Linked DNA regions of Homo sapiens: all the other regions are linked to region 1. The links come from fine-mapping of genetic effects on gene expression. Tissue or cell type: whole blood. Region 1 holds a variant in brackets; each other region holds the start of a gene. All regions are shown on one strand. Distances are from middle to middle.

Region 1 (2,755 bases):
TTCGTTTTATTTTACTTTCTAAGACAGGGTAACACTTTGTCACCCAGGCTGGAGTGCAGTGGCACAATCTCAGCTCACTGCAGCCTCAAGTTCCCTGGCTCGAGCAATCTTCCCACCTCCCACCAAGTAGCTGGGTCTATAGGCAAGCACCACCATGCCTGGCTAATTTTTCTATTTTTTACAGAGAAGGGGTTTTGCTATGTTGCCCATGCTGGTCTTGAACTCCTGAGCTCAAGCGATCCACCCACCTTGGCCTCCCAAAGTGGTAGGATTCAGGTGTGAGCCACTGCACCCGGCCAATAGATTCATTTTATACATTAAGCTCCTAATCGATTTACAATCCAGGTGTGCTGAGTGAGGTATGGAGCTCTATTTTTTCCAGAAGTTTACCCAATTGTCACAACATGAAAACATCTTAAAACAATTCAGGGCAAACCACACATTTCTGCCAATCAGATACAACCCCATGGGCTGCTACCTTGAAACCTCTTGCTTTGGTGAGCACGAAGTTCACATCCGCTGGGAAAGTGGGAAAGGGGGTTGACCGAAGAGCCTTGCTCTTGGGAAGAAATCTGCAGTGACCTTTCTACTGGTGTCCCTGTCCAACATCAGCCACAAAAGAAAAAGACTGGCAGGCCTCGGTGGCTCACGACTGTAATCCCAATACTTTGGGTGGCCAAGGTAGGAGGATCGCTTGAGCCCAGGAGGTTGAGACTAGCCTGGACAACATAGCAAAACCCCGTCTCTGTTTAAAAAAGAGAAAGATCAGATCACCCTTTCCTAGGCTGCAGTTACCCTTACCAAGGGGTTAGAGGCCATCAATAGTCAGCAACCGAGGACATCATTGACTGGACAATGGAAATGTCAGGCACTTTGCTTTAATGAGGACGCACATGAAGTCACCTGGCACAGGGACAGTGGAGCCGCTCAGAGGACTGAGGTTAGGGGTTGGTGATGGCAGGGCGCAGTGTCCCGGCCTTCCTTCTCCCCAGATGTTTCCAAGCGTCCCTTAAAGCTCATTGTTTGGCAGTGCAAATCCTAGGAACTTTGGAACGGCTACTTCCAGTTCACTTGTCACCTTTTCCCCATAGATTTCCTGTGCAACCTCACCCCTCCTAACAGGACAGGGAAACCCAGAGAGAGCAGCCTCCATTCTCCCATGACTTCTAACTCTGACACGTAAGGGCAGTCCCTGAGTCACTCGCTGTTCAGGCCCTCGGATGCCGCTGGTCAACTGAGAAACGCAGGACAATCAACCCTTTCCCCATCACAGCCCGGGCCCTGCAACAGCAGCCTCCCATTACTGAGAGCCCCTCGCCAGTGTGCCCAGCATGCACACAGCTCACCTCATGTCACCCTCACCACAACCCATCAGACCAGAGCCATCCTCATGTCTTACCGCAGGGGCAGCTGGACTCAGAGAGAGCAAGTGAAAAGCCCAGCTCACACAGCTAAGAGGCATGGGAGCGGACAGTGCTGCCAGGCAGGCTAACCTCAGGGCCATGCTCCTAGCGTGGGGCCTGTGGGTCCCTGCTTTAGGACACTCAACGTTGCTGCGGCTTAATCACATGGGATTTCCTTCCAACTCTCCCTGGCCCCTGTTTCAGG[G/C]GCTGGGAGGAGAAAGAAGCCTGGGAGTGCCCAACACTCAGCAGATACTCACCCTTCCGGAAATGAGTGTCCTCAACTGCTTGTCTAAAAAATTAACATTAGCTTTCTCCTTTTTCTTCTTTTTTGAGATAGGGTCTCGCTCTGTTGCCCAGGCTGGAGTGCAGTGGCACGATCTTGGCTTGCTGCAACCTCCACCTCCCAGATTCGAGCGATTCTCCTGCCTCAGCCTCCCGAGTAGGTGGGATTACAGGGGTGCACCACAGCACCTGGCTAATTTTTGTATTTTTAGTAGAGATGAGGTTTCACTATGTTGGCCAGGCTGGTCTCGAATTCCTGACCTCAAGTGATCTGCCCACCTTGGCCTCCCAAAGTGCTGGGATTACAGGCGTGAGCCACCTCACCCGGCCAACTTTCCATCCAACGTGTGCTCTCCCTGAGCACACTGGGGCATGCAGAGTGTCCAAGCTCCCTTCGATAAAAACAGTCCCAGCCAATACAACACAGCCATGGGAATGATCTACAGTGACACAGCAACAGTGACACCTCCCAAGGTAACATCAAGCCGGTGAGGCCAGAGACAAGAGATGACACACCGTAGGTACACATCCCGTGTGTCCTCTCTTTATACAGAGCACAGAAACAAGAAACTCCAGTCCATATGGTTAGATGTCAGTATGCTGTCAGCCTGGGGTGGGGGTGGGTATGGGCATGGACCAGAAGCGGGCATGAGGGGGCTGCTCAGTGCTGATAATGTTGGTTGCTCAGTCTGGTGAGGCTTAAATAGATACACTCAGTTTGTGAAAAATTTAGTGAACCACTTAGGCACCCCTTTCTGTAATATAAATTATACTTCAATAAAGGTTTGTGCCAACACTACATTTTGGGAGGCCGAAACAGGAGGGTCCCCTGAGCCCAGAAGTTCAAGACCAGCCTGAACAACATAGGGAGACCCTGTCTCTACAAAAAATAAAACAAATTTGAAAAGTTGCCAGGCATGGTGGTGCACATTTGTGGTCCCAGCTACTTGGGAGGCTGAGGCAGGAGGATCACTTGAGCCCAGGAGCTTGAGGTTTCAGGGAGCCATGATCACACCACTGCACTCCAGGCTGGGTGACAGGTGTCTCATTTAAAGAAAAAAAAAATTGTA
Region 2 (2,608 bases), 52 kb before region 1:
TACATTTTATCACAATTGCAGAAATGTGTTGTATAAAAGTTTGTTAAACAGGGCTAACTGAAGTCTTAGATGTTGAACAGCTATGTGTAACCACAATTTATACTACTTGCAGCGAACTCAGATTATTTTCGGATGTTAAGTATGGCTTGAAACTATGTTAACTTGAAATGTAAAGAAACAGCAAAAGACAGGTGTATTTACCTAAAGATCACATATTAAGGAAACAGGCTTGGTTAATTCCTCACTATTGACATCTATTACTTGTCAATACATTTAACCAACCAATGATACTTTAAATCATAATGTTACTTTGAACAACCTACTTTAAAAGGTTGGTTCAAAAATGTTGAGGAGATAATGTATTGGTTGGGATTGACCTAAATTTACAAAGCAACCATGTGCTGTCTTATGCTACCCAGATTGTGGGAGCACCAAAAGCTATGTCCCTAGGACTACAAAGTGTGTTGTTTAAGGATCTTGCAGAGAGCCAATGCCCCTATTGGCAACATCACTTCTCATCCTTAAGTTTCACCAGTTGGGTGGCCTCAAGGCACTAGGATTCCCATTTTTTTTTTTATTCAGGTCAGAGAAGAGTCCATCACTGTGACTGGGAAGAATGTCAAGTCACAGGGTAACGGCGGACCTTAATAAAATCTCGGCCCCTCTGCACCGAATACCCCACCAGGAAGGGCTAAGGCATCCATGGGGTTGTGTCTCATCTCAAGTCGCTGTGTGAAGCACGAGGCCCTCACACCTCATTTAAGGCAGGAGGCGTCAGGGGCGACCGGCCAGGTGTCCCGGCGCCTTCCCGCCGCTTCTCAGCCGTGGAAGCGCGGGCATCTGAGCACGTGGAGCCGCCCCAGGCCGCCCCGCACACCCCTCCCGCCAGATGTAGTCCAGGCCCAGCTGGGCCCGCGCAGGGATCCCCAGCACGGCCACCTGACTGAGTGCTGGGCGTGCTGCGGCCCGCTGCTTCTGCCTCCGCCGCCGGCGCTGCGGCCAGAGGAAGGCGCCCGCCGAGCACACGGGCCCCGGGAGCGCACTGCGGCCATTATCCGCGGCGCCTCCTAGTGGGTCAATGGCAAATCCGCCTGGTTCTCGCGAGAGCTCCCCCCTCAGTGGGGATTATATAATTTCCCTCAAGCGGGGGTGGGGGTGCTGAGAGCACCCTCCCTCAGGAAAAGTTAGGTGCAAGCAGGGGTGGGAGTAAGAGGAACCCCCCCTGGGGAAAAGGGGGTTAGGGGTGCTGTCCCCACTGCCCCCCCCTATTTAGCTGGACAATGAGTCCTCTTATGCTAATGAGGCACTTACGTCACTTCCGCTCTTTCTCGGCCGCCATTTTGGCTAGGGCAGGTTCGGGGACTCGGTCCGAGGCGCTTGTATTGTCTGCTGAGGGGAGACGCGGGATCAGCCCCCTCCCCCGCCCGTTGCCGCCGCCGCCTCCGCCGGCCCGGTCTCCCCTCCGCCGCCCGCCGGGATCCATGAGCTGAACTCCCGCCCCCCCCCCCCCGGCCGCCGCCATCTTGTGCCCCCTCCCCCTCCCGCAGGCAGCGCTAAGGGGGATTTTGGCGTCTTCTCAGACACAGCTCCCTCTCTCGGTCCCCGCTGCTGAGGAGCGAGAGGAGCGCGGCCGCCGCCGCCCGCGCCGGTGAAGCCGCCTCTCCCACACCCTCCGTCTCCTCCCTCCGCCCCTCCTTTGTCTGCACCGCTCGACGACGCCGCCGCCGCCCGCCGCTCTGCTGCGCCCGCCGCGCCCCCCGGCAGCACCCGCGGCCGCGGCGCGAGCCGGAGTCCGCCGAGCCGGAGCGCGACGAGGCCCCGGGCGCGCCCTCCCCGCTGCCGCCACCGCCGTGCCGCCGCCATCCGCCCGCCGCCGCCGCCGCTGTCCGGCCCCCGAGCACGCCGGCCCCGCGCGCGCCTCGAGGCCGAGTCAAGGTAAGCCCGGCGCCGCCGCGCGCGGACCCGCGGCCCTGCCCTGCCTGGCTTCCCGACCCCGGCCCGCGCGGCCGCCAGTGCAGCCTGGCCCCGGGCGCGGGCGCATTGTTGTTCGCATCGCCGCCCTCCAGCCGCACACACGCTCCTTTGCACACCCCGGCGCCGACGGGTCCCCCGTCCCGGCACGGACCGCTACCCGACTCTGCTCCGGAGGTCCAGGCGCCTCCTCCTGCAGCCCGACCCCCTTCTCCGCCCTGTGAGCCCACCGAGGCCAGCACTCTGCCTGGCCGCCCGGAGCTTTTGCAGCTAAGGGCATCTCCCCCAGCCAGAACCGAGCTTCTCCCATCCTGGAACTAATCCCGTCCGCCCCCCACCCCCAAAAGGAGCCCCCCCACGCACACCCCCATGCCTTGAACCAGCCTTCTGCCAGGTCTGCCCACCCTTACCTGGGGGAGGGGGGACGGGGTTGGGGGGGGCGGGGAGCATGCATGGCATGGAGTGAGTCTTTGCCTCCCCTGTGCAATCCTTCTTCCCCAACCTGCCAGCTTTCCTCTTATCCTGACCACAGTTCACCACCATCCCTTTTCCCCAATCTCAGCTGCCTGGTCAGCACCTCTTTCGAACATTCTGAGCCCCAACTTTGCAGTAAGGTGGTAGAAAATGGAAATCCAGA
Region 3 (2,608 bases), 85 kb after region 1:
CCTCACTGCAGCCTCACTCTTCCCCGTCCCCTATCCCCATCCCAAGCAATCCTCCTGCCTCAGCCTCCCAGAATGCTGGGACCACTGGCATGAGCCAATACTCTGCCTAGGCAGATACAGATATCTACATTTGTAAATGCATTTTAAATGTCCGGAATGATTTATACCAAACAGTTAATGCTGGTTTTCTAAGAAAACTAGAATTGGGGTGGGAGAGAAAAGAGAAAGGGGTGCATAGCCTTTATGTTAAATACTCCTGTACTGCTTTTGTGGTTTAAAAAGAGAATGGGTTGAATTTCTGACCGTAAATAACTCCTAGTGAACTCAGACAAATAACTTTTTCACAACAGCGTCGACAGATGCCTCCAGCCGGAAGGTAGAGGGTCTCGTTTTAGATCTGCTTTTCACTTGGTGCTTTTAAAATAGAAAGCGCAGACAGAGGCGTGGTGTTTTCGCTCCGAGCTGCAGCAGCGCAGCGCGGCCCGCACAGCCGCAGCCTGAGGCGCCGCTCGGCCCGGGCACCGCTCGGAGGTAGCCGGGGCAGCAGAGGTCCCGGGGTCCGCCTCTCCCAGGGCCGGCCTGGCAAAGGGCGGCGCCTGAGGACCCGGCGGATGCTGGGGGACCCGGGTGGGGAGGGAAAGCGAGCCTGGGCCTCCGGGGCCCGGTGTCGCCCGGAGGAGCGAGCAGGGACGACCCGCTGCACATCTCTGCGTGGCGCCCCGCAGCCACCCTTCAGGAAGGGGGGAATCCCCGGGCCCCCCACTCCGGGAGCGAGAGGATGCTCCGGGGAAGCCGAGGGTCCGGAGCCCGGACCCCTAACCGCGAGAACCCTCTCCTCCAACTCCACAGCCCCGTCCCCTACCTCGGCCCCAGGCTCGGGGGTCAGGAAGAGCGCGAGCTCGCGCGCCCCGCTGCGCATGGGCTCCGGCTGATCAGCGTCCACGAGCAGCATCAGGAGGGCGACGGGGTCCGGCTGGCGGAGGCTGCCTGGGAGCCCGTGGTTGCGCCCGGGCCTCGGAGCCCCGCCCCCGGTCCGCTGCATGCCCCGCGGACCGCCTGGCGGAGGCGGGGCAGGTGCGCTCCCGGCGGTCGCGGCTCGCAGCTCCAGGAGCGCCGGGCCGAGCGGGCAGCGCCACCCAGTGGCGAGCGGCGCGCGCTGCGCCCGCCCCCGCAGCACCTGGGCATCAGTGCTTTGCAAACTCGCTTGCAGATGGCAGTCACCTGGAGCTCTTTTAGAATTTCCCAAGCCTGGACCACACCGTCTCTGGGTTAAGACCTGGGCATCAGGATCTTTTGATGTTTGTTAGGTGGTTCCAACCAGATTGTTGACCCAAAGCTAAATTTGAGAACTATTGGGGCAAGCCACCCCTCCCCATCGGAATCCCGGTAGAGTACAGGCTCCCGGCCCCGGACCCGGCCGTAAAATAGAATCCCCGGGAAGCTTTTAAAAGCCCGGAAGCCAGGCCTCGCACCAGGCCGATTAAGTTGGAATCCTTCGGAGTGGGGCTTGGGCATCGGTAGTTTCTAAAACTCCCCGGGTGATTCTAACGGGCGTCCGGGTTAGAGAGGCGCTAGCTTAGAGGAAGCCCAAAGCCGCCCGCCCCCCACCCGTTCCCATCCTACTAAAGCATCTAGTTTGCATCGGGCGGAGGGTCCTGGAATTTAGGGAAGGCCGAGTGTGACGGTCCTCGTCTTCCTCTTCGGTGCGGATTTTAAAATAAACTTCACCAGGAAACTATTGAGCGCACTACATTTCACAACCGCACCCACTCCCTCCATGCCCTCGGAGGCCGGCCTAGATAGACCCTTTACAAGCCTTGGGGCTGAAGAGAGCGAGGTGCGCCTCATCTCCCACCCCAACAGTGCTAATGAGGAAAGTACTAAAAGGCAAATAGGTATAAGACAAGTCTGAAGTTTTGATTTTTCGTTTGATGACTTATTTTTATTTTTAATTAATTAATTTTTTTTTTTTGGAGACGGAGTCTCGCTCTGTCGCCCAGGCTGGAGTGCAGTGGTGCGATTTCGGCTCACTGTAACTTCCACATTCCGGGTTCAAGCAATTCTCCCCCTCCCTCAGCCTCCCGAGTAGCTGGGATTACAGGCGCCTGTCACCACGCCCGACTAATTCTAATTTTTGTATTTTTTAGTAGAGACGGGGTTTCGCCATGTTGGCCAGGCTGCTCTCGAACTCCTGACCTCAGGTGAGCCACCTGCCTCGGCCTCCCAAAGTGCTAGGATTACAGGCGTGGGCCAGCGCCCCCTGCCTGCTGACTTTTCTTTAAATGTTAAATCGCCTCACAAAAAAAAAAAAAAAAAAAGGCTGAGCTGCTTGGGCAAACATAAGGAGACTCCATCTCTCTAAAAGAAAAAAAAAAATTAAAATTGCAGGATGTGGTGGGGCACAACTGTAGTCCTAGCTACTGGAGAGGCAGATGCAGGAGGATTGTTTGAGGCCAGGAGTTCAAGGCTACCGCGAGTTATGATCGCACCACTGCACTCCAGCCTGTGTGACACAGTGAAACTCTGTCTTTTGTTGTTGTTGTTGTTTTTTAAAAAGGAGGGGCTGGTATCAAGGGTGCAAATAAATATATAGGACGTCCCACACCTT

What was found. PIP is the estimated chance that this variant, and not a neighbour inherited with it, causes the effect.
Region 2: it holds the start of ADNP, and the variant in region 1 is fine-mapped to the expression of ADNP in whole blood (TOPMed, PIP above 0.99).
Region 3: BCAS4 starts here. The variant in region 1 is fine-mapped to the expression of BCAS4 in whole blood (INTERVAL, PIP 0.91).

Annotation. Positions count from the first base shown.
Region 1 is chr20:50,878,495-50,881,249 of GRCh38, reverse strand. It overlaps a transcript of BCAS4 not described here. Among named protein-coding and RNA genes, the nearest start is that of ADNP-AS1, 51 kb to the left of the region's middle. RefSeq lists enhancers at 869-1,368, 1,369-1,870. The variant G/C (reference allele first, on the strand shown) is at 1,609.
Region 2 is chr20:50,930,153-50,932,760 of GRCh38, reverse strand. ADNP (activity dependent neuroprotector homeobox) reads left to right here and starts at 1,324. Exons shown (of 6, transcript NM_001282531.3): 1 at 1,324-1,935. It overlaps ADNP-AS1 (ADNP antisense RNA 1), which reads right to left and starts at 1,777. Exons shown (of 3, transcript NR_110009.1): 1 at 1,707-1,777; 2 at 1,312-1,386. RefSeq lists silencers at 836-1,015, 879-1,066, 1,366-1,585, 1,736-1,785, 1,926-2,105 and enhancers at 1,166-1,285, 1,705-2,495.
Region 3 is chr20:50,793,428-50,796,035 of GRCh38, reverse strand. It overlaps BCAS4 (breast carcinoma amplified sequence 4), which reads right to left and starts at 975. Exons shown (of 5, transcript NM_198799.4): 1 at 863-975. The coding sequence starts at 952. RefSeq lists a silencer at 423-1,242.